Linked DNA regions of Homo sapiens. The protein of the gene in region 1 purifies or fractionates together with the protein of each later gene. This does not show direct contact. Each region holds a gene or a part of one and is shown in the gene's direction. Other genes may lie near its edges.

Region 1 (4,243 bases):
TACTCCTCTAGTAACACTACCTGGGTCAGACGGGGCAGTTATCAGTGACTCCCAACTTATAGCCTTTTCCTCTGGGTGTGTAGAGACTCTCAAAGATTTCTTCAGTAGACACGGTTTTTGCTTCTTCTCTCCTGTCCTGGGACATTTTATGATCCTGACCCCATTCTTACCCTTCCTACCAGCACCTGCTCAGCACGCTCTGGAAACAAAGAACACTCTATCCTCTCACTGTAAATTGACTGTAGAGTCCAGGCTAGGGACACCACGACATCATCCCTGTAGCTGCTAGTTCTTTCATGCCATCACTGAGCCGGGAGCCCCGGAAACTTAGCTTGGAGGAGTGGAGCAGTAGGGCATCTTAAAATGTTTTTTTGTTTGTTTGTTTTAGATGGAGTTTTGCTCTGTCTCCCAGGCTGGAGTGCAGTGGCGCTATCTTGGCTCACTGCAACCTCTGCCTCCTGGGTTCAAGAGATTCTCCTGCCTCAGCCTCCCTAGAAGCTGGGATTTCAGGCACGCGCCACCATGCCCAGCTGATTTTTGTATTTTTAGTAGAGATGGGGTTTCACTATGTTGGCCAGGCTGCTCTTGAACTCCGGACCTCAAGTGATCTGCCCGTCTCAGCCTCCCAAACTGCTGGGATTAAAGGCGTGAGCCACCGAACCCGGCAAATCTTAGAATTTTTGAGAGGAAGGGACCTTCAAGAGACAAACGCAGTTCAGGGACGTGGGGCTATTGCCCACAGTCACCAGTTGGTTCTCTTTTTTTGGGGGGGTGGGGGGATAGGGTCTTACTCTGTCGCCCAGGCTGGAGTGCAGTGGCACGATCTTGACTCACTGCAACCTCCGCCTCCCGGGTTCAAGTGATTCTCCTGCTTCAGCCTCCCCAGTAGCTGGGATTACAGGCGCGCGCCCCCAAGACCTGCTAATTTTTGTATTTTTAGTAGAGACGGGGTTTCAGCATGTTGGCCAGGCTGGTATCGAACTCCTGACCCCAAGTGATCCGCCCTCCTCGGCCTCCCAGAGTCCTGGGATTACAGGCGTGAAGCACTGCGCCTGGCCTAGTTGGTTCTCTTTTTCCCTGTCAGCCTGTAGCGGGAGTGGCTTGCTGTCAGCTCGGGTCCGACACTGCAGGGTTCCCGACCTCCAGCCTCGCCAGGAGAGCGCCGCGTTCAGCGACTCGGAGCCGGGTACCTCCTGCCTGCTGGATTAGGTAGAAGGAGAAGCTCAGCCAATCCTGAGGGCTCGGAGGCAAGGAAGGCGGGACGAAGAGGAAAAGTTGAGGACAGGAGCGTCACCCAATCCAACGCCTGACTGCAAAAGCGATGGCGGCGAGCACCCAATTGTAGACGGCAGTTAGAGGGAGGATGGTTAGTGGAGAGCGGACCAATCCGTGACAGGGGAGGGCAATCTTAAGCCAATTAAAGCTGAGAAGGTGGGAAGGGGCGGAGCTCGCCCTGTGGCTGCTCGGTGGTGGGTGAGGTATCAGCTTTCTCCGCTAGTTCCCACCCTGGTAGTCCTTAGCCCCTGGAATGCGTGAGGGAGATGCTTAGGGAGTTCTCGAAGTGGGGCGTAGAGGCATCGCCTGGCAAGGCCTGGGAGCGAAAAAGATCTCTACTTCGTGGAGCCGTTGGACGCTACCGGGTGGGCATCAAGGAAGCGGAGGGTGGCTAAGGGGCGGGACTTCCGGGGGCAGGGCTTATCGGACGGGGGTGGGGCCTGTTCTAAGGTTAGGCCGAGGTGGGCGGAGCTAATGGGAGAGCTTTGGGTGTGACCTAGGAGAAAGAAGGGCAGTAACTTAAGCGATTGTTTTGGAGTGGCAAGTGATAGTTAAGGGCTGATAAGGTTGCTGGGGAGGTTACCTGTCTTAACTCACTGCCCTTTTTTCTCAGGGAGCCACTGGTGGGGACCTTTTTTGGGCCCCCTTTCCTTCGTGGGGTACTATGGAGTTCCCAGAACACAGTCAGCAGCTGCTGCAGAGCCTCCGGGAGCAGCGGTCCCAGGGTTTCCTTTGTGACTGCACCGTGATGGTGGGTAGTACCCAGTTCTTGGCCCATCGGGCTGTGCTGGCCTCCTGCAGCCCATTCTTCCAGCTTTTCTACAAGGAGCGGGAATTGGACAAGAGGGATCTGGTGTGTATTCACAATGAAATTGTCACAGCCCCAGCCTTTGGGCTGCTTCTGGACTTTATGTATGCTGGCCAGCTGACCCTGAGAGGGGATACCCCTGTGGAGGATGTGCTGGCAGCTGCCAGCTACTTGCACATGAATGACATCGTCAAGGTGTGTAAGCGGCGGCTTCAAGCCCGGGCCCTGGCAGAGGCAGACAGTACCAAGAAGGAGGAGGAAACCAACTCACAGCTTCCTAGTTTGGAGTTTTTGTCTAGTACTTCCCGTGGCACCCAACCTTCGTTGGCATCTGCTGAGACATCAGGCCACTGGGGCAAAGGGGAATGGAAAGGCTCTGCTGCTCCCTCACCTACTGTCCGTCCTCCAGATGAGCCACCAATGTCTAGTGGGGCTGACACTACACAGCCTGGCATGGAGGTTGACGCACCACATCTGCGGGCACCTCATCCACCAGTGGCTGATGTCTCTCTTGCCAGCCCTAGTAGCTCCACTGAGACCATTCCTACAAACTACTTCTCTTCTGGCATCTCAGCAGTTTCATTGGAGCCACTGCCATCTCTTGATGTGGGTCCTGAGAGTCTGAGGGTGGTGGAACCAAAGGATCCTGGAGGACCACTGCAAGGCTTCTATCCCCCAGCCTCAGCCCCAACGTCAGCCCCAGCCCCTGTCTCAGCTCCAGTTCCATCCCAGGCTCCAGCCCCAGCTGAAGCTGAGCTGGTCCAGGTGAAAGTTGAAGCTATTGTGATCTCTGATGAAGAGACTGATGTGTCAGATGAACAGCCTCAGGGTCCTGAGAGAGCTTTCCCATCTGGAGGAGCAGTGTATGGGGCACAGCCCTCCCAGCCAGAGGCTTTTGAAGACCCAGGGGCAGCAGGACTGGAGGAGGTGGGGCCAAGTGACCACTTCCTGCCAACAGACCCTCATCTACCCTACCATCTGCTGCCAGGTGCAGGGCAGTATCATCGAGGACTGGTGACCTCACCTCTGCCTGCACCCGCATCCCTGCATGAGCCACTTTACCTGTCTTCTGAGTACGAAGCAGCTCCAGGAAGCTTTGGGGTTTTTACTGAGGATGTTCCCACCTGCAAGACATGTGGGAAGACCTTCTCATGCTCTTACACACTACGGCGACATGCCACGGTGCACACACGTGAGCGACCCTATGAGTGCCGCTACTGCCTGCGGAGCTACACGCAGTCAGGGGACCTCTACCGCCACATCCGCAAGGCTCACAATGAGGACCTGGCCAAACGCAGCAAACCAGATCCAGAAGTGGGACCCCTTCTAGGGGTGCAGCCTCTCCCTGGCTCCCCAACAGCAGACAGACAGAGCAGCAGTGGTGGAGGGCCACCTAAAGATTTTGTATTGGCCCCAAAAACTAACATCTAAGGGAGCATGAGCTGATGCTAGGCTGCTCTTACCATCCTTAGATGGCAGCTCAGAAGGTTGGTGGCACCTTATCACCCCTGCTGGGTGACAAGAATAAAGGCTCTGCCCAGGCTGAAAGTTCCTACCCTTTTTTTTTTTTAATCTTTTATTTTTTTGAGACAGAGTCTCACTCTGTCACCCAGACTGGAGTGCAGTGGCGCGATCTCGGCTCACTGCAAGCTCAGCCTCCCCGATTCACGCCATTCTCCTGCCTCAGCCTCCCGAGTAGCTGGGACTACAGGCGCCTATCACCATGCCTGGCTAATTTTTTTTGATTTTTAGTAGAGACAGGGTTTCACCGTGTTAGCCAGGATGGTCTCGATCTTCTGACAGATCTGACCTCGTGATCCGCCCATCTCCACCTCCCGCAGTGCTGGGATTACAGGCATGAGCCACCGCGCCCAGCTGCCTTTTTTTTTTTGAGTCTTGCTCTGTCACTGAGGCTGGAGTGCAGTGGCGCAATTTCAGCTCACTGCAACCTCTGCCTCCCAGGTTCAAGCGATTCCTTTTTTTTTTTTTTTTTTTGAGACAGAGTCTCACTCTGTCCCCCAGGCTGGAGTGCAGTGGCGCGATCTTGGCCCACCACGCCCGCCTAATTTTTTGTATTTTTTAGTAGAGACGGGGTTTCACCGTGTTAGTCAGGATGGTCTCGATCTCCTGACCTCGTGATCCACCCGCCTCAGCCTCCCA
Region 2 (3,500 bases), on another chromosome or scaffold:
AAACTCCTCCTGGGCTCAAGTGATCCCCTGCCTCAGCCTCCTAAACTTCTGGAATTACAGGCATTACTGTAGACTTTATATAGCTTATAAAAATACTTTCTTTTTATCCTTATTCTATAAGCTTTTTTTTTTTTTGAGACGGAGTCTCGCTCTGTCACCCAGGCTGGAGTGCAGTGGCACTGTCTTGGCTCACTGCAAGCTCAGTCTCCTGGGTTCACGCCATTCTCCTGCCTCAGCCTCCCGAGTAGCTAGGACTACAGGCGCCCACCACCACGTCCTGCTAATTTTTTGTATTTTTAGTAGAGACGGGGTTTCACCGTGTTAGCCAGGATGGTCTCAATCTCCTGACCTCGTGATCCACCCACCTTGACCTCCCAAAGTGCTGGGATTACAGGCGTGAGCCACTGCGCCCGGCCTCTATAAGCTTTTTTATATTATATATATATATATATATATATATAACTTATTTATTGATTTTTTTACTCGTTAAACTTTTTTGTTAAAAAAGTAAGACACAGACATACACATTAGCTGAGGCCTATACAGGGTCAGGATCATCAATGTCAGAGTCATCAATATCACTGTCTTCCACCTCCACATCTTGTCCCACTTGCAGGCTTTCAAGGGCAATAACAGGCATAGAGCTATCCTCTCCTATGATAATAATGCCTTCTTCTGGAATACCTCTTGAAGGACCTGCCAGAGGCGTAGATTTATTTACAACAGCATCACCAGAAACACATGAGAATGCTTTATGCCATGTCTTTAAAACAGCTACCACAGTATCACTAGGTGATAGGACATTTTCCACTCCATTATAATTTTATGGAGATCATTGTGCGTGGTGCATGGCTGTGTTTGTGTGCACGTCTCACCCTCTCTTAAGAGCACAAAGAGCCTTCCTTTTTTATTCTTTTGTCCCTTATAGCACTTAGCACAGTACCTTGCATTTTACCATCAGTAATAACAAAAACAACAATAAATTTAGCCCAGGGTTCACTGCAAAAAAGAACAAAAGATCAATCTAAAGATGTGATTTTAATTAATACGTAGGTGTGGGAAATGCTACTGCCTGTGTCTTACATGATGTTATCTACGTCATTGGTGGCCACTGTGGCTACAGAGGAAGCTGCACCTATGACAAAGTTCAGAGCTACAATTCCGATATCAACGAATGGAGCCTCATCACCTCCAGTCCACATCCAGGTAACAAAAATACTGTCTCAAATAGTGTATGTTGTGATGTAGTTTAGTAGCATAAAGGATGGCTAAAAATGGACTGGAAATAGAAAATGCTGATTTTATTGTAGACTACACATGGGTAGAATTAAAAGTCTCAAAATATTCATATATGTCCATCTAACAATAATCACAATGAGATTCTGATTGGGTCACATCTACAAATATTTTCCCTGATGTCTTTATACAATGCACATTGTAAGTCTGTGTGGTCAAAAATATTAGCGTCTTTAAAATTTTTTTCCTTTATATGCCATCTTTCATTTATGACATTAATTATATAAAATACAATGTTCATAAGTAGTTGAAAAGCACCATTCTATCAAATAGTCAGAAAGGGTACCCAGTGATTGAAGTTCAGCTAGAAATTGTTTCCTGTTTTAGAAGCATGTTCTTTCTAGGTTTCACTTACTATTAAGCACTCACTCCTACAATGTGCAGAGCCATATGTTGGCCTTACCTTAACACTCATACAGGGAACATGCTGTCTGCCCATAAGGAATGGCCTACCTTCTTGGATGTCTTCTGTTCTTTGACTTGTGTCTTTGTGAAGAGCTCAGAGGGAAGCACAAGTTTTAGTCTGTTTCAGTTATGCCATAGGTTTAAGTTGTTTTCATTAGGAAAGATTCATATCATCGTACCACCATGTTACCTTGAATCATTTTCCATAGAGCATCAGGCTTCCATGTGGGTCAGTGGAGGGGGTAGTGGAAATTCACAAGCTGGAACCATCTGAGAGGACTAGTAATACTTACCATAGATCAGGCACTGGCTAAGCACTTCATATGTGTATTACCTCAGATTCTCACTACAAGTCTGTGAGCAGGTATTGTTTGTCACCATTTTACATATTTGGAAATGGAGGCTTAGAAACAATAAGTAACTTTTCCAAGGTCACAGTTTCACAGTTTGAAAGTGGTAGACCAGGGTTCAAAATCTGACAGTCTGATTCCATAACTTGTGCTGTAGCCACTAAACAATCTGTCTCTCCTTCAGGGAGCAGACTCTCCTGCTTTCAACCAAGGCAGCTACTTCCAGCCCATACATCATCTATCCCATATGATGGTTAATCTGAAGCACACCTAAATCTGGTGCTGCATCTCCATATGCCCAGGCTTTGCATGAGAAGGAACTTTAGCCCCAGGCTTCCCTGGCTGCAAAGACACCATGGAATGGGTAAACTTCTCCCTCCTAGTAGCCCAAATGGACCATCCCAGACTCCCCACCACTTTCTGCTGTGATCAGTGAAGTTATAATGGAAAGGAATAGTAACAACTCACAGTGAGAAATAGCTAGCATTTATTCAGTCAGTGTGTGGCAGGCACAAACTATTCCAGTAATTTTACATGTATAATCTGTTTAAACCTCAAAATAATTCCATGAGCTAGGTACTGTTTTTATCACATTTTATAGGACACTGAGGGTCAAAGAGATTATATAAATTGCCCAAGGTTAGCCAGCTAGTGCTTATTAGAACTGAGGTTCAAACCTAGACAGACTGGCTTGAACTTCACTATTATCTCACCTGAACCTCATGTTACCCTTAGAAGTTAGATGTTACTCTGCCTATTTTGTGGATAAGCTTATCTTTACAAAGAAAATCCGATACATGAAAAGTCAGAATTCACAAATTAGAGGGCAGTTATTTATATTATAAATTTAATGTATATGTCATTAAGAGTTTCCCTCAAAAATAAGTTTTCCATAACAGATTTCATATAGCTTATTAACTACATGAAAAAGAGTCTGAGAGACAGTGTCACTTTGGACTTAATCCAAAGTATTAATAAGTCATGGCAAATTGAAAATCCAAAATAAATGTTAAATTATAATATAAATCAATGGTAACATAATATGCATCCACATGTAGTTTTGATTTACATTGAACTTTTTCCTGATGAAACATAAAAAACAGATTTTAAATCAGTACCTTGCATGATGTGTTCTGTTTAGCTTTCACAGTCCTTAAAATATTTTTGAACTGGCTTGTTACCAATATTTAAAATTTAAGAGAATTTCAAGTAAAAATCATTATTTCTGTCCTTTAAAAGAAAAGGGAAGACCTAGCAGCCTTGGATGTATTCCTTCTAGGCAGCAGTCACGGGAGCCAGGGGGTAGCTGTTCCCCTAAATGAGGCTTGTGTGCTCCGTTTCACCACAGTCCTTCCAATTCTCCTCACGTCACTGACCTAGGGGGCCTGTGCCGTTGTTTTTCTTGCTCCCAGCTGGCTTTGCTCAGCTAGTCTGTTAAATCCTTAAGCT
Region 3 (3,341 bases), on another chromosome or scaffold:
GTTGAGCAAAAAGGTGGTCAGGCTTCATAGGAAACAAAATAGGAAAGGGTGGCATTGGGGGCAATTTCTAGTTCTTCTACTGTCTGAATCACCAACTCAAAATACAAGGCTGACAATGCTGTCTTTGAATTCAGGAGAAGCAAACTGAAGGAGAAGCACAAAAATCATCACAGCTATGGTGAAACCCTGTCTCTACAAAAAAAAAAAAAAAAATACAAAAGTTAGCCGGGCATGGTGGCGCACACCTGTGATCCCAGTTACTCTGGAGGCTGAGGCAGGAGAATCACTTGAACCCAGGGGGCAGAGGTTACAGTGAGTCAAGATCATGCCATGGAACTCCAGCCTGGGCAACAGAGGGAGACTCCATCTAATCAATCAATCAATCAATCAATCAATCAATCATCACAGCTTCCTAAGTCCAAATATACCTCCCCTCACAACCTGGAGAGATTGTCCCTGGATTTGACTGATCATTGTTTATTTCAAGACAGTCTTTAAAAGAAATGCCGATCCTCAGAAGGAGGATATTTTGCTATAGAGAGTGGAAAATTCAAGAGAAGTACACTGATATTTGGCATAAGCCTCAGTGTCATATGACCATCTGTATTCCTTTTTAAATAATTCCAGAAATCTTTTAGCTATTAGTTTCATCAGATTTTCCAGAATTTTAGTGGTTTCATTTAAATGTCAGTCAGTTAGTTCTTATATATTGAATAGCTGCTTTTTTTCCAGCAGTGTTAGTCAGGAAGTGTTTGGAAAATGGTGGTCATGCTTCTCTTCCCTCACTTCTCAAAGGCCAGCGACTTTGTCCTAATCCATTTGTGTCTTCACCTTTGATCACTAGGGCCGCCTGCTGAACCTTAGCTGCTCCACAGTGCCTACATTTGTGCTCTCAATCACTGCTACTACTCAGGTAAGGCTTCCAGAGTGGGATAGCAGTAGTCTGGAGAAGGTCCTCAGACCCACCAGGTTTCACTTGCTTGGGTAGATTGCCATGAATGGCACATCAGCATCCATCTCTCTGCTTTTCTAGGCTCTTGCCTTGATAGAGCTTTACAATGCTCCTGAGGGTCGCTATAAGCAGGATGTCTACCTGTTGCCCAAGAAGATGGGTAAGTATTTACTCTTCCATCTCCATCCTTACCAAAGTAGTTCAGAGTCTGAGGTTAAAGGAAGTTTGGGGGCATTAACTTACTTAAGGATGGGGGAAAAAAGGTACCTTCATCTTGTAAAGTAGGAATTAGGATTCCTAGGTGCCATTCCCATTTATTTATCCCATTTTCTACATGTGTTGCCCTAGCGAAGTTGTGATATTATGCTGTGATTTATTTTACCTGCCTGTGAATTTTAAGGATTTTTTTTTTCTTAAAGTATCTTTATGTGGGAATCTCAAAGGAGAAAAAAAAAATCTTCCCTTAAAAGAGAAGAATCATCTCCTACCTTGTGACATCTGACTTACTCCAATTCTAGGCTGCCAAATAGCCCCTACCAAACTTTTCTCAGACGACACAAGACTTTCTTACTACACCTTCCAACACCAATCCCAGTGCTTCAGGCCAAAGGAGAGATGTGGAATAGGAGCTATTTAGTTATGTGGGTGTTTTGTATAAGAGAAACATTAACCTGTCTTAAATTTTTAAAGAGCCTGCCTCAAGCACCTGAACTGATACAGTGTGTTTATAAACTCCTCAGGCAAAGATCAGGTAATAAATAAGCTTCTGGTTTTGTTTTGCCTTAGCACTAGGTATATAACAACTGTTAAAAGTTGATACATTTTCCCTTTAGTAGACACTTTAGAAGGATATAAAAGCAACAGCACAGTCCATATTCTGACAGAATGTATAATGAAGTTGGGAGACCAAACAAATACATAGGAAATGACATAAGATTATGAATAAGTACTATGTAGTCAGATAATAGAATGTGAACAGAAACCCATAAGAATTAAGAGTACTAAAAGCAAAGCAAACAGTTCATTTATCCCATTTAGTATCCTTCTTAGTTTTTCCATTCAAGTTTCCCCAGGCATTAGTTGTTTTAAATGACCCAAAGTATGGAGTCCAAGGCAAAACTCAAGTTGGAGCTTCCCATTATTTAGTTCCCACATTATCCTATTCCTTCTTTTAAATCTTAATGCCTGTTGTTTCTTTCATCTCTCCTGCACTTTTCTGGAAGGCAGGGTTCAAAGCTGAGTTAGTAAGGATGAATTATTAAGGCTTTGGAAAGCACTGGGCTTGAAGCTGAAGGCAGCTATTCCTTAGAATTGAGGACCAGTGAGCGAAGGTTGAACATTTTTCATTCAGCTCCAGGAATTAGAAGGTGTCTTTGAACTTTTTAAGGCCTAGCTTGGGGACAATAGCCATCAGATAAAAGGCATGAATGCTTATACCAGGGCTTCTGTGGTCTGTTCCAGATGAGTATGTGGCCAGCCTACACCTGCCTACCTTTGATGCCCACTTGACAGAGCTGACAGATGAACAGGCCAAGTATCTGGGACTCAACAAGAATGGGCCCTTCAAGCCTAATTACTACAGGTGCCTTGGGCTCCCCAGAAATCAGGGACACCTGGGCAGTGATGAGCTTCCTGCACTGGAATTGGTCTTTGCATCCCCAACCACATATGCTTACATGAACTCAGAAAAATGAACCCACTTCCCCTCACTGCCACCTTCAAAAGACTCTTCAAGGCCTTAAATAGTATTCCCCTTCCTGAATTTGCCTTTTGGAGATAGAGAGGTGGAGTTTGGGTAAGTGGCTATTTGCCTCATTAAATAAAGTTCCCCTTCCTCAATTCCTTTCCCCATTTCATCTTGTTGCTATGATTTTTATCTCTTTATGGAGAAATATTGGCCTTTTTCAATGATGTGAAAAGGAAACACAGTTATTTCCTGTCACTGTACACTCCAGAAAAGTCTCTGCCTCCCTGTTACACCTTTAGGCAGGCTCTTCATGTCCCAGCATCCCCATTAGCTGATAACATCACAGTCTCATCTTTCTTTTTCCCTCCAGGTATTAAGTTCCTGTAACTCAAACCAGAATTTTTAAGGAATAGAACTCCAAGCCTTTTCTCCACTACTATACAAGAAAGAATTCAGCAAGCTGCTTCTCCAATCAAAGCTGCCTGCCGTGCTCACCCTGTGTGTTAGGTTATTTATTTATTAAAATCAAGAATCCTGTGCCTGTAGTGTTGGCCCAGAGTGTGGTTACTGCCCTGAGGGCCATGAAAGCCACAGAGGATGGGCTGAGGAAGGAAAGAAATGGGGTTACTGCTCCCAGTGCATCATTTGCATCATTCCCCATTGACTGAATCCTCAGCAGTGGCCGTTTTTCCTCTTGTCCAG
Region 4 (3,388 bases), on another chromosome or scaffold:
ATGGTTTTTCTGTGTTTAAAATACCTGTAAGAAACATAAAACACCAGTGAAAGTAATCTTAAAAAAAAAAAAAAAAATCCCTGCCTAAAGCACAAAGGGCCTACGTTTTTGTTATTCCACCCCTTTTACTTTTCATACTCTGTGACTGGAAATGTTTTAATATCCAAAATGCTAGCAGCTTTTTCTCTTTCTATTCCCTTTGCCTTGCTGTAAGGTTGCAGAGCGAGGTTGAGAACAGACTTAATATCATGTAGTTACAGTCATTTTATGACATGACTTTTCATTCTTCTTAGTTTTTACAAGTTAGCACTTTGCATCTTTTAGAACCTCCACATCCTCAAACACAAACTATGCCTTTTCCACCCAGGTTTTCCTCAGCATCAGCCCAGTATTAGGCAGACAACAAGCTCAACAAATACTAGTTGAGATGAAATGGCTATTTTGTCTTTCTAGTGAACAGATCCTGTTTGAATACTTAAGAAAGCACAATAATACCCTTGTGGTTTCCTAGGGAAATGGTCCAACATCCACTGGCAAAAGATATGTTGCAGAATTAGCTGGCTTACCAGGCATGCCAAATATACGATACTACACAGGATGGTTGAATTTTATTAAATGTCATTCCAAAGCCAGACTTCACTGGCACAGTGAAAGGAGGCGTTCTTTTGAAGAGAACTGTGTCTTACAGTTTTGTTGCCTTCAAAATGGCCTTTTGTTCCAAATTATAAATTAGTATTTAAAAAAGTATCGTAACTTCAATGACATGTTATTTTTAAGGATAATTCAAATCAAAACCCATTATAAGTTTTTTAAAATTCACTTAAAAATGAGTTGGAAAAAATTTCATAAGCCTGTATAACCTCAGTGTCATTGAAGCAGTAATTGGACAATCCAGATCGCATTTCACATTGTGTGATGTGGACCAAAAAAAAGAGAGAGAGGCAAAGAAAGAGAGAAAGAACCACTCAGGGTTTGGCTGCGCAGCGTTTTTAGAGGCCTGTTTTCTAAGGAAGGAAAAGCACTTCGAAATACAGTGTAAGGTCAACATATTTGCTAGACCCGGGAGGTGAGCTGATTCCATATGAATCCCTATGGCTCTGTTATACCAAAAGAATATGAAATACCAAGAAATGGCAGTAAAGAAAGGAAGAAAATTTTTTCTTTTCAAATTCACTGACTTTCTCACTGAAAAGACCTTTCTTTCAGTTCCCTGCTTTTGCTGTGTCTTTCCTTGTTGCTCTTCCAAGCCTTTCATTGTTTAATGACGACTAATTCAATGGTAGGCAGAGAGCAAGGTATTAGAAAGTAAAAACTTCCTTTCCTAAGAAACCATTAGGGGGCTGTGGTTTGCCAGGGCAGGAGGTGGAAGGGAGCCCCATTTACAGTGGTAACTTCCTTTCCCTTTCCATCCTGGCAGGCTTCAGAGAACTTTACCAGCTGGTCGGTCTTTCGTTGCCATGGATACCAAGGATATCCCTCAGATTTTACAACAGATCTTCACCTCCACCATGTTGTCGAGTGTCTAAGAAGTGCCCTTCATCACCCTGATGACACCAGGATTTGAAATAAGACAGGAATAAAGAGTATTCTGAAAAAAAGAAGATATGGATGAAGTGAACCCATGCAGTGACTGGATGATTCCGGCATTCCTGGGTCTTCCTACACTTGCTCCGTAATGAGAATTCAGAGAAGCAGCCAGAAGGAGACTTAAACATGGAAAGATACTCCACTGATGAGTTTAGAAGTGATTAGGGCAAGCTAGTTGACCTGCACTTTATCAAAGGTTGGGGTTAAAGGAAGGTGGTTTTGAGAACTATGTGTTTGGTCTATTTCCAAAAACCTGAGGGGGAGAAAATACTTTGCTTTTGCCTTAACACATCATCTGGTCACGTTAGAAAAGTGACCCCATCAAACTGAGCCTTTGATGTCACATTCTGACACAAGATGCAAGTCTGTGCAAAACCCACCAAAATGCTCCTATCCAACAATTATTTTTATTTTCTCCCTGCTCTGTATTGACCAGAAAACAATGATTTTATAATATTTAACCCACCAAAAAGTCCCTCCAACAGCAATATCTTATGAAAGTCTGGCTGTTCTCAATAATTTCATTTTCTTGGCCAAAGCCAAAAGGAATCAAAAAATCCTTGGAGTGCTTGCCTTTCCACGTGACTTTTAAAAGGCTCTTAAAGAGCAAATGTCCTCTTCTCCTTGCTGCTAGAGTGGGAGGAGAAAGATGTCTTGCCTTAAAAGTTTACTGTTTCTTCTGTTCTTCTAGCATCTCTCAAAAAATTCACAGTACTCCATTTTGGGGTCCAAACTGTAATGCTCAAAATAATAAATGCTTACACGAAAATTATTTATTGAGAATATTCATATAAAAATTACCTAAAGCAAAGTAAAAAAAGTAAAATCAAGGTGGTATATTTGAAGTGAATGGTGATTGGAAATTTTTAGCTGTAACAAAAAGAAAGAAAACAACTTTTTTTAAAGCCTCATTCTCTTTTCTTTCAAAATGTACCTTATTCCCACACACTCTTGGGCTGACCTTTATTTTATCAATAAGCTCAATATTACTTTGTTTAAAATAAGATGCTTCAGCAAAAGTCATTCTCTCTTTAACCATATAATTTAAAAACTCCTCTTCACGATTGATAGCAAAATCAGAAACGTTAGGGCACCAGTGAGTTGAAAAAACTGGTCTTAAGTTGGAAAAACTATTATTAATAATATTATCCTATCCATCCATATCTATTGAAATTGTACAGGTCCATAATTTCATTTTAATTAATTATAGGAAAGAAGAAAAGATAATACCCATTTGTTCTATCACCCCTCTCCCTATCATTAACTATCAAATAAATAAATAAAAGCAATCTGATTTCCAACGTGGTACTACCTGGTGAGTTTGCATGGCTTTCTTGTTCCTCTAGTGAGACACCTGCTCCATGTATTGAACCATTCAATGATGCAAACAATTTCAATCCAACATGTATCTTTAAAAATGTAATTGCATTCCAACGGTCGCCACAACAGCAGCTAGCATTTACTGATGATTTACTGTGAACCAGGTATATGCTAAGTGATTGCATACATTATTTCATTCATCCTTACAACAATGCATGTAACAGGGGTATTTTTTACCTTATTTTGCAGATGATAAAGAAAGTGAGGCTCAGAGAATTTAAGTCACTTTCCCAAGATTCCTGTTACTAGACCTTTCACTAACTATTCATGGTACCATTAACATCCTCATTTTACAAGTAAAGAAACTGAGGCTTAGAGAAGTTCAAGAAAATAGGCCACACTCACAGCCAGGCAGGGGCAAAGCTGGGCCTCCAGCCTCCAGGCCCCTTAATGCCTTTGCGTCCCTCGCAGTCCCACGCCC
Region 5 (3,500 bases), on another chromosome or scaffold:
GTCCCTATCAGACTTCTCAGATACACTTTATACACACATACACACATAAATGCACACATACACATTTTGGCCATTTATCACCATTTTTTGGTGTGGTTTTTTTTTTTTTTTTTTTTTTTGAGACAGAGTTTCGCTCTTGTTGCCCAGGCTGGAGTGCAGTGGCGTGATCTCAGCTCACCACAACCTCCACCTCCCCGGTTCAAGCAATTCCTCTGCCTCAGCCTCCCGAGTAGCTGGGATTACAGGAATGCGTCACCACACCTGGCTAATTTTGTATTTTTAGTAGAGACAGGGTTTCTCCATGTTGGTCAGGCTGGTCTCAAACTCCCGGCCTCCCAAAGTGCTGGGATTACAGGCATGAGCCACTGCGCCGGGCCAAGTATGTTGTATTTTAAACTAAGTTTTAGACTTTTTTTTTTTTTTGAAACAGTCTCGTCTCACTCTGTTGCCCAGGCTGGAGTGCAGTGGCACGATCTTGGCTCACTGCAACCTCCGCCTCCCGGGTTCAAGTGATTTCCGACTAATTTTTGTATTTTTAGTAGAGACAGGGTTTCATCATGTTGGCCAGGCTGGTCTCGAACTCCTGACCTCAAGTGATCCACCCACCTCAGCCTCTCAAAGTGCTAGGATTACAGGCGTGAGCCACCGTGCCTGGCCTAGACATATTTTAACCCCCAATGTGATTTGTCTCAGAAGGAGAGAAATCTGCTTTAACCCAGTGTTCCATCTAAATATTCATTCTATGTGCCATTCTTCAGGTAGGCAGATCTTTTGATCTTTAGTCTCCCTTTTGATCTTTAGTTCTCTTGGCTCATGGGTTATTTAAGGATGAGATTATTGACATTTCTTTGTTTGTTCTGAGTGTAGGGGGAACCAGGAAAGCCCATTTAGCCTCCTTGGAATAGAGCTGTTAGAACCCAGTTTCAGTGAATTTCGGTCATGTCTGGCTTAGATTAGTTGTTTTAAAAATTAAATTGTTTGCCTGAGCCAAACCCTGTGATTAAGGTGTCCTATTTCAGCAGTTATAAAGGCTTTTTTTCCTCATGTCCCCCAGATTTATTCTCTAGCGTATTCATCTTAGCTTTCCTCTTGTTTTATCAAACCGGCAGAATAATTTTTAGTTGATCTTAATCAGTATTAAGGGCCATGAAATCCTGATGCTGTTTTCCTGAAGTTCTCTGAACTAGCCCTGGTTCTGGCTGCCTGAAGCTGTGCATGAGAAGGGGACCTTGTGCCCAGGACTGCTATGACTCTGGCTCTCCTGAGAATGCTTTGAGAGTTGTTTTGGGGGAGAAATGGCTTCAGATGTATTTAAATCATCATGTTTTCTGAATAAAAAAATTGAATACATGCTCTAATAAAGGGGTTCCCCTTCTTTTTTAGATGTATTTTTATAAAATAGGTGGTAAGACTAAAACATACATACAACAGATTTCCTGTAAAAAGTGCCATTAAAGAATGCAAAATTCAGCTATCTGTATGTTAGGTAAGGAAATGGCTGTTTTCACTTTCCACCTTTCAGTATTTCAAGGTTTCCATGTACATTAATGCATAACTTAATGACAGGGATATGTTCCAAGAACTGCCTTAGTAAAGCAGTTTGGTCCTTGTGCCAGCATGCTAGAGTGTACTTACACAAAGCTACGTGAGAGAGTCTACTACTCACCTAGGCTGTATGGTATAGCCTGTTGCTCTTAGGTTACAAACCTGTACAGCATGTTACTGTACTGAATACTGTAGGCAGTTGTAACACAATGGTAAGTATTTGTGTATCCAAACATATCTAAACATAGAAAAGGCACAGTGAGAATATGGTATCACAGTCTTATGACCACCTTTGTTCACGTGGTCTGTCATTGACTAAAATGTTGTTAGTGCATGACCTTATTTCAGTAGAAACCGCAAAGCAGGGACTTTGTGGCAGGTGGACTGGGTTTGAATTCTGGTTTCATTCTTTCCTGATGGTTTGTCTTTAGGCCAGTTATCACTTAACCTCTCTGAACTCCCAGGTTCCCTTATCTGTAAAATGTGCGTACTAATGCCAGTGCCGTTAATCCCAGGACTTGGTAGGCTGAGGTGGGAGGATCGCTTGAAGCCAAGATTTTGAGACCTGCCTGGGCAACATAGCAAGACCCCATTCGCTACAAAAAAAATTTTATTTAGTTTAGCCAGCTGTGGTAGCCTGGGCCTGTAGTCCTAGCTACACTTGGGTAGGCTGAGGTGGGAAGATCCCTTGAGTCAGGAGGTTGATGCTGCAGGAAGCCATATCACTTACTCCAGCCTGGAAGACAAAGTGAGACCCTGTCTCTTAAAAAAAATAAAAAAGTGTGGACTGGGCATGGTGGCTCACACCTGTAATCCCAACACTCTGGGAGGCTGAGGCAGATGGATCACTCGAGGTCAGGAGTTTGAGACCAGCCTGGCCAACACAGTGAAACCCTGTCTCCTCTGAAGATACAAAAATTAGCCAGGTGTAGTATAGTCCCAACTACTTGGGAGGCTGAGGCAGGAGAATGGCTTGAACCTAGGAACCCAGGAGGCAGAGGTTGCAGTGAGCTGAGATCACGCCACTGCACTCTAGCCTCCATCTCAAAAAAAAAAAAAAAAAAAAGCGTATGAATACCCACCCTACCAACCAAGCTAAGTCAGTACAACCCTAGCACATAGTGAGCCATCAAAATCACTCTGATCTCTCTTCTTTTTTTTTTTTGAGATGGAGTCTCACTCTGTCACCCAGGCTAGAGTGCAATGGCACAATCTCCGCTGTTCAAGTGATTCTCCTGCCTCAGCCTGGTGAGTAGCTGGGATTACAGGCATGCACCACCATGCCTGGCTAATTTTTGTATTTTTAGTAGAAACAGTGTTTCACCATGTTGGCCAGGCTGGTCTTGAACTCCTGACCTCAGGTGATCCACCTGCCTTGGCCTCCCAAAGTGCTGGGATTACAGGTATGAGCCACCACGCCTGGCCTGATCTCATACTTGTTTGATGAACTCTGCTGGCTAAATGTTTCTAACTTAATTAAATTGTGTGATAAAATATTATAATTTTAGGGGCGTTTTTATGGAGTTGTGGGGAGGGGTGAACACTGGGAAGGAAATACTGGAAATTGTTGACCAGTGGAGTCACCATTAAGCTGGCCTATTGGCTGGGCGCGGTGGCTCATGCCTGTAATCCCAGCAGTTTGGGAAGCCGAGGCGGGCGGATTACCTGAGGTCAGGAGTTTGAGACCAGCCTGACCAACATGGTGAAACCTCATCTCTACTAAAAATTCAAAAATTAGCTGGGCATAGTGGCGGGCGCCTGTAATCCCAGCTACTTGGGAGGCTGAGGCAGGAGAATCGCTTGAACCCGGGAGGTGGAGGTTGTGGCGAGTTGAGAGTGCGCCACTGTACTCCAGCCTGGGAGACAGAGTTAGACTATGTCTCAAAAAAAAAAAAAAAAAAAAAAGATGGCCTGTTGACCCATAGCCACAACCAGCAGTTCTCAACCTTGGGTTC
Region 6 (3,500 bases), on another chromosome or scaffold:
CTACTTGCAAGCCTACAAGTTTTCCTGCCACAGTGTCATGGATGCTGGAAGAAGATAGAAGACTTCTGAGTCAGAAAGAAAGGACCTTATTACTCTCTACATAGCAAGCAGTATAAATTTCATTTTTATACCAGTTTTCCCTTCCCCTCAAGTCCCACAAGAGTGACATAGAGTGGCCCAGGTGAATGCATAAGATTGATTTATATTATAGCTGAAGAATCTCCAGCTTAGGAATCTCAAAATTTTTATAGTGGGCTACAAACAAACCTGCCTAACGTTTTTTCCAGAGTGGGGGCATTCTCTTTATTATATTGGACAATAAACCTGCCCTTTCATCTACTATACTATACTGCAAACATCCAAACCGAAAGTTTTCAGTTCACAAGATGTGAGGAAACTGAAGAGACTCAAGGAGAATTGTCTCCCAACAGGTGTCGTCTTTTACTGAGTTTACTGAGTTGTGAGAATCCTTTCTTCACTCTAGATATAAGATCTTTAGGCTGGGCACAGTGGCTCTTACCGGTAATTCCAGCACTTTGGGAGGCCGAGGTGGGCAGATCACCTGAGGTCAGTAGTTCAAGACCACCCTGGCCAACATGGTGAGACCCCGTCTCTACTAAAAAATACAAAAATTAGGCGGGCATGGTGGCAGGAGCCTGTAATCCCAGCTACTCAGGAGGCTGAGGCAGGAGAATCACTTGAACCCGGGAGGCAGAGGTTGCAGTGAGCCAAGATCGTGCCACTGCACTCCAGCCTGGGCCACAAGAGAGATACTCTGTCTCAAAAAAAAAAAAAAAAAACCAAACAAAAAATTTGACAGATAAATGTTTGCAACTATTTTCTTCTGGCCTGTGGCTTGCTTTTTTATTAACTGTATTTCAGAGGGCAGTTTTTAATTTTGATGAAATCTATTTTATCAATTTTTGCTGTTATGATTTCTGCCTTTCTTATGCTGTTTAAGAAATCTTTCAGCTGGGCAGGCTGGGCGCGGTGGCCCACGCCTGTAATCCCAGCACTTTGGGGGAGGCCAAGGCGGGCAGATCACAAGGTCAGGAAATCGAGACCATCCTGGCTAACACGGTGAAACCCCATCTCTACTAAAAATACAAAATATTAGCTGGTCGTGGTGGCGGGCGCCTGTAGTCCCAGCTGCTTGGGAGGCTGAGGCAGGAGAATGGCGTGAACCTGGGAGGCGGAGCTTACAGTGAGCCAAGATCACGCCACTGCACTCCAGCCTGGGTGACAGAGCGAGACTCCATCTCAAAAAAACAAAACAAAAAAAAAAACAAAAAAAGAAGAAATCTGTCAGCTGGGCACAGTAGCTCATGTCTGTAATCCTAGTACTCTGGGAGGCCGAGGCAGGAGGATCACTTGAGCCCAGGAGTTCAAGACCACCCTGGGTGACATAGTGAGACCTCGATTCTATCAAAAATAAAATTAGCTGAGTGTGATGGCACGCATCTATAGTCCCAGCTGCTTGAGAGGCTGAGGTGGGAGGATCACTTGAGCCCAAGAGGTTGAAGCCACAGTGAGCCAACATCACACCACTGCACTCCAGCCTGGGTGAGAGAATGAGAAATCTTTCACTAACCAATGTCACTAAGGTCTTCTCCTGTTTTCTTCTAGAAATTTACTAATTCTTAAATTTAGGTCTGTGACCCATTTTGAATTAATTTTTCATGTATGATATGAGGTAAAGGTTGAGGCTTATTTTTCCCATACACATAATTGTTCTAGCATCACTGTTAAATGATTAGCTTGGAACTTTTTTTTTTTTTTTTTTTTTTGAGACAGAGTTTCGCTCTTGTCGCCCAGGCTGGAGTGCAATGGTGCGATCTTGGCTCACCCCAACCTCCGCCTCCTGGGTTCAAGTGATTCTCCTGCCTCAGCCTGCCGAGTAGCTGGGATTACAGGCATGCCACCATGCCCAGCTAATTTTGTATTTTTAGTAGAGACGAGATTTCCCCATGTTAGTCAGGCTGGTCTCAAACTCCCAACCTCAGGTGATCCACCTGCCTTGGCCTCCCAAAGTGTTGCGATTACAGGCATGAGCCACTGCACCTGACTGGCACCTTTTTTTCCCCCATAAAAATCAGTTGACTAAGCGTGGGTCTATTTCCATGGACTTTATTCCATTAATCTTCGTGTCTATGCTTTCACCAGTACTATTGTCTTAATTACTGTAGCTTTAAGTCTTGAAATCAGGTAGGATAAGCCCTGCAGTCTTGTTTTATAACTGTTTATATAAATTTTATTGCCACTTTATCAGTTTCTTCAAAAAAGCCTGGTAGGATCTTCTTATAGATTTTTTAAACCCCTACATTATGTATTTCAGGAACAAAGAAAACTCAGCTCCCTTAGAGGAAAATACCACAGGAAAAAATGAGGCCAAAAAAAGGAAGATTGCAGAAACTTCAAATGTTATCACTGAGTCATTGCCATCTGCAGAATCAGAACCTGTTGAAATTGAGGTAGAGATTGCCGAAGGCACCATTGAAGTGGAAGATGAAGGCATCGAAACATTAGAGGAAGTGGCTTCTGCCAAGCAGTCCGTAAAGTACATACAGAGCACAGGTTCCTCTGATGATTCTGCTCTAGCACTGTTGGCAGATATTACCAGCAAGTACCGTCAAGGTGACAGAAAAGGGCAGATTAAAGAAGATGGCTGTCCATCTGACCCCACGAGCAAACAGGTAGAAGGTATTGAAATTGTGGAACTTCAGCTGTCACATGTGAAGGACTTGTTCCATTGTGAGAAATGTAACCGTTCATTTAAATTGTTTTACCATTTTAAGGAGCACATGAAATCACACTCCACTGAGAGTTTCAAGTGTGAAATATGCAATAAACGATATCTTCGAGAGAGCGCATGGAAACAGCACCTAAATTGTTACCACCTTGAAGAAGGTGGAGTCAGTAAGAAGCAAAGAACTGGGAAAAAAATTCATGTATGTCAGTACTGTGAGAAACAGTTTGACCATTTTGGACATTTTAAAGAACATCTTCGAAAACATACAGGTAATGAGCAAATACTTTGTTAAAATTTTTTTTTCCCACATGCACTTCAAATTTAAGTATCTAAATCCTTTTTAAAAAAATAGTGCCTCAGAAGCCATCTCATGTATTATCTCTAATGTGTAGGCTAAGTACACGTTTTTATAGTATTACCTGTTCAAATATTGGTGCTTTAAATGCAAATCAGTATCAACTTTGGAAGTAATTGTTACTTTTATGCCTTGCCCAATTTTTATATTTTTCAAAGAAATAGAGAAAATAGTTTGTGACTTATTTCCTAAAGATCGTAAATAATTAAATCTTATAGTGAGACTTTACCATTTCTATTTTTACATTTCTTGTGTCGTGTTACTTACAGTACATTTACAAGCAATCCCTGACAGCCAGGCGCGGTGGCTCATGCCTGTAATCCCAGCACTTTGGGAGGCCGAGGCAGGCGGATCACCTGAGGTCAGGTGTTCGAGACCAGCCTGGCCAACATGGTG
Region 7 (3,500 bases), on another chromosome or scaffold:
AATCTCCGCCTCCCGGGTTCAAGAGATTCTCCTGCCTCAGCCACCCGGGTTCAAGCGATTTTCCTACCTCAGCCTCCTGAGCAGCTGGTATTACAGGCACATGCCACCACACCTGGCTAATTTTTGTATTTTCACTAGAGACGGGGTTTCATCGTGTTGGCCAGACTGGTCTCGAACTCCTGACCTCAGGCACTCCACCAGCCTCGGCCTCCCAAAGTGCTGCATTACAGGCGTGAGCCACAGTGCCTGGCCTGCATCTTTGCTTTTCAAGGCTGTGCCTTTGAGCCTTTTACTGTGGGGATATAAAGGGTGTCAGATGAAGTTGAAGGGTCTTGACCCCAAAGTGAGGGGTACTTCAACATAGTAGTGAACAGGACAGGGTTGGGGGCTCATAGTGATATTGGGGACAGTGGCAAGGAGTGTTCCAGGGCCTGTGGGGATGCACAGTGGAGCAAGGAGGCTTCTTTAAGATCTCAAGGGAGCTACTGTAGGCTTGGGGGGTGGGGGACAGCCACCTTGGTACTGGGTGATGGGGAGGCACTGAATGGGCTTCAAGTACTCAAAAGCCTGATCTTCAGGTTTGGGAGTGAGAGTTCTGGCCCTGGAGCCCTGGCTGAGTGGGCACAGGGGGCTGAAATTGGCTCCTAAGAGCTGGGGATGGAGCCTACCTGGCAAGGGTGCTGCTGGATGGCATCAGAAAGATCCAGGTCACTGGAGGAGTCAGTGACCCAGGGGAGGACTCTGCTCCAGCCCTGCATGTGTGCACTTCCTCCTCGCTCTGAGCAGTTGTCCTCCTGCTGCCCCCTCCACAGGGATGACTCCGCTGAGGTGGACGTGTACAACCCGACGAGGAACGAATGGGACAAGATCCCGTCCATGAATCAGGTAAATTTTCAGGCGGGCCAGCATTGGAAGCACAGGCTGGTCCTGATTTTGCAACCCAAGTGTCATCGTGATGAGTGTTTGGGATCCACAGCCATGATGGGTGGGTCTCATCTCAATTAATAGAAGGCTGCTCTTACCCTTATTTTGCACTTAAGGCTCACTGAGACACAGATGTTAAGTAATACCCTATGATTACACAGCTTAGTACACATTTGAGCAGTGTTTATTGAGTATCTGCTGTGAGCCAGAGAGCAGAAGGAAGTGAGGGAGCAAGGCATACAGTCATCTGGGGACACCTGTTCCAGAGAGGGACAGCAGGTACAGAGGCCCTGCAGCAGGGCACCCTGGCGTGTTCTTAGATACACCAGCAGCCCATGTGGCCGGAGCAGAGTCAGCATGAGGTCTGTGACCTACCTTTTTTATTTTTGAGACAGGGTCTTGCTCTGTCACCCAGGCTGGAGTGCAGTGGTACAATCATGGCTCACTGCAGCCTCCACCTCCTTGACTCGCAGTCCTCCCACCGCACCTTCCTGAATAGCTGAGACTACAGGCGTGTGCCACCACACCCAGTAATTTTTTTTCTCATATGTAGATACAAAAGGATATTCTTAAAATTTTTATAGAGACAGGGTCTTGCTGTGTTACCCAGGCTGGTCTCACACTCCTGGCCTCAAGTGACCCTCCTGTCTCAGCCTCCCAAAGTGCTAGGATTATAGGCGTGAACCACCACGCCCAGCTGGTTCCTGAGGAAGTCAGTGTGGGAATACTTTTTTTTTTTTTATACGGAGTCTCGCTCTGTCACCCAGGCTGGAGTGCAGTGGCACGATCTCGGCTCACTGCAAGCTCCATCTCCCAGGTTCACGCCATTCTCCCGCCTCAACCTCCCGAGTAGCTGGGACTACAGGTACCCACCACCACGCCCAGCTAATTTTGTTTGTGTATTTTTAGTAGAGACGGGATTTCACTGTGTTAGCCAGGATGGTCTGGATCTCCTGACCTTGTGATCTGCCTGGCTCAGCCTCCCAAAGTGCTGGGATTACAGGCATGAGCCACCATGCCCAGCCCACTGTGGGAATACTTGTGTTGAGCACTTGCTGTGTGTTCTGAATAGGACAACCAGGGTCCACCCCTTCTCTCTGGGCTTGTTGAGAAGAGGGGTGCCCAGCCTGACAGTGATGGGACAGGGAGGCTTCAGTGCCATTTGGCCATGTGAGCAGTGTTAGTCTGAGGTACACATCATATTGCCTACAGCCTTCTTTCCTGTGTGTCTGTTAACATTTCCAAACCTACACTCCGTGACATCCAGCCTCACAGCTTACATCACAGCTTAATGTCCTGGCATTTAAGAGACCCAGCGTTCTGTTTTCCCCGCAGTAAGCTGCACATAGTCATAGCGAATTTGGGAAAGATGGAAGGAATCATCCAGCCTCGCGGTTCAGAGCCCAGCTCTGCCACTGTCAGCCATGCAAGCCTCAGTTTTCCCATCTGTAACATGGGGAGAACAGCACTGCTCAGCCCAGAGGGCCACTGCAGAGATTCTGAGAGAGAACGTAGGAAGCGCTGCTCGGCACGACCTGCACACGGGGAGGCCTGGCGCTGCAGCGGGCACCCTCATCACCATAGGGAAGGCCCAGCTGCCTCCGGGGAGGCCCGTTCTCCTAGGCAGGGTGTTGGAAAGGGGTTGGCCTCTCTGCTGCTTTCTGGGAGAGCCAAGGCCACCCCTCTGGGGTACTGACAGGGCATGCCTTGTCTCCAGTGGTTCCCCAGGTGGGGCCCTGCCCTACCCTCTCCTCTGACCTCCACTCACTCATCCCTTTGGCCCACAGGTACATGTGGGGGGCAGCCTGGCCGTCCTTGGGGGGAAGCTGTACGTCTCTGGGGGATACGACAATACATTTGAACTCTCGGACGTGGTAGAGGCCTATGACCCAGAGACTCGCGCGTGGAGCGTGGTGGGGCGGCTCCCAGAACCCACCTTCTGGCATGGCAGTGTCAGCATCTTCCGCCAGTTCATGCCCCAGACCTTCTCGGGTGGGCGTGGCTTCGAGTTGGACAGTGGCAGCGATGACATGGACCCAGGCCGACCCCGGCCGCCGCGGGACCCCGATGAGCTGCACTAGCCCCAGTCTGGCCCGGCACGGGCCTCGGTGCAGGTAACTGGCACCTCTGCGGGGCAGTGCCCCACTCCTTTGTGCACAAGGACACGTTGGGCTCACAGGAGGAGCACAGGCTCTTGGGTGGCGAAGCCAGCCCAGGATCCATTACCTGGAAGGTTTCTGTACCTTGAGAGCCTGAATCAGAGGCCGTCGGGAACGCCCTCCCTGCAGTTGAGGAAGAGCCACTTTCCTGCCAGCACATGTTTCTGGGTCTTGGAGGTCACCCCCACCCCGCGGATCACAGCTCACCCACGCGGCGCACACCCCTCCTGCCGTTGTCATCTGCACCTACTTGTTCCCACCTTGGGAGAGGACGATGACTTGGGAGGGACGCGTGAAGGGAGAAGGGGTCCTCCCATGAGGCTGAGGATGGCCTGAACCTGGAGCAGCGGACCAGGCAGACGGGCTGAAGTGGGGTCCCAAATTCCATGTCCAGAGGTGTGGGGAGCCTGCCTCCCT

Evidence for each region.
Region 2: the proteins of ZBTB3 (region 1) and KLHL23 purify together in Homo sapiens (affinity purification with mass spectrometry, with the first as the bait; one large-scale study listed by BioGRID). This does not show direct contact.
Region 3: the proteins of ZBTB3 (region 1) and AHCYL2 purify together in Homo sapiens (affinity purification with mass spectrometry, with the first as the bait; one large-scale study listed by BioGRID). This does not show direct contact.
Region 4: the proteins of ZBTB3 (region 1) and VWA8 purify together in Homo sapiens (affinity purification with mass spectrometry, with the first as the bait; one large-scale study listed by BioGRID). This does not show direct contact.
Region 5: the proteins of ZBTB3 (region 1) and SMYD2 purify together in Homo sapiens (affinity purification with mass spectrometry, with the first as the bait; one large-scale study listed by BioGRID). This does not show direct contact.
Region 6: the proteins of ZBTB3 (region 1) and ZNF131 purify together in Homo sapiens (affinity purification with mass spectrometry; 2 studies listed by BioGRID). This does not show direct contact.
Region 7: the proteins of ZBTB3 (region 1) and KLHL21 purify together in Homo sapiens (affinity purification with mass spectrometry, with the first as the bait; one large-scale study listed by BioGRID). This does not show direct contact.

What each region holds. Positions count from the first base shown.
Region 1 is NC_000011.10:62,751,361-62,755,603, reverse strand, and holds the start of ZBTB3 (zinc finger and BTB domain-containing protein 3), read left to right. Parts: upstream 1-1,443; 5' UTR 1,444-1,640; intron 1,641-1,888; 5' UTR 1,889-1,939; coding exon 1,940-3,514; 3' UTR 3,515-4,243.
Region 2 is NC_000002.12:169,740,332-169,743,831, forward strand, and holds part of KLHL23 (kelch-like protein 23), read left to right. Parts: intron 1-1,053; coding exon 1,054-1,206; intron 1,207-3,500. Other genes in the region: PHOSPHO2-KLHL23 (kelch-like protein 23), read left to right, coding at 1,054-1,206.
Region 3 is NC_000007.14:129,424,030-129,427,370, forward strand, and holds part of AHCYL2 (adenosylhomocysteinase 3), read left to right. Parts: intron 1-844; coding exon 845-913; intron 914-1,033; coding exon 1,034-1,112; intron 1,113-2,413; coding exon 2,414-2,534; intron 2,535-3,009; coding exon 3,010-3,016; 3' UTR 3,017-3,341. UniProt on the Homo sapiens protein: May regulate the electrogenic sodium/bicarbonate cotransporter SLC4A4 activity and Mg(2+)-sensitivity. On the contrary of its homolog AHCYL1, does not regulate ITPR1 sensitivity to inositol 1,4,5-trisphosphate.
Region 4 is NC_000013.11:41,566,335-41,569,722, reverse strand, and holds the end of VWA8 (von Willebrand factor A domain-containing protein 8 isoform a precursor), read left to right. Parts: intron 1-1,327; exon of another isoform or gene 1,328-1,417; coding exon 1,418-1,526; 3' UTR 1,527-2,888; downstream 2,889-3,388. UniProt on the Homo sapiens protein: Exhibits ATPase activity in vitro.
Region 5 is NC_000001.11:214,284,159-214,287,658, forward strand, and holds part of SMYD2 (N-lysine methyltransferase SMYD2), read left to right. Parts: intron 1-3,500. UniProt on the Homo sapiens protein: Protein-lysine N-methyltransferase that methylates both histones and non-histone proteins, including p53/TP53 and RB1. Specifically trimethylates histone H3 'Lys-4' (H3K4me3) in vivo. The activity requires interaction with HSP90alpha.
Region 6 is NC_000005.10:43,158,914-43,162,413, forward strand, and holds part of ZNF131 (zinc finger protein 131), read left to right. Parts: intron 1-2,335; coding exon 2,336-3,018; intron 3,019-3,500. UniProt on the Homo sapiens protein: Plays a role during development and organogenesis as well as in the function of the adult central nervous system. May be involved in transcriptional regulation as a repressor of ESR1/ER-alpha signaling.
Region 7 is NC_000001.11:6,592,870-6,596,369, reverse strand, and holds part of KLHL21 (kelch-like protein 21), read left to right. Parts: intron 1-812; coding exon 813-885; intron 886-2,259; coding exon of another isoform or gene 2,260-2,262; exon of another isoform or gene 2,263-2,711; coding exon 2,712-3,005; 3' UTR 3,006-3,500. UniProt on the Homo sapiens protein: Substrate-specific adapter of a BCR (BTB-CUL3-RBX1) E3 ubiquitin-protein ligase complex required for efficient chromosome alignment and cytokinesis.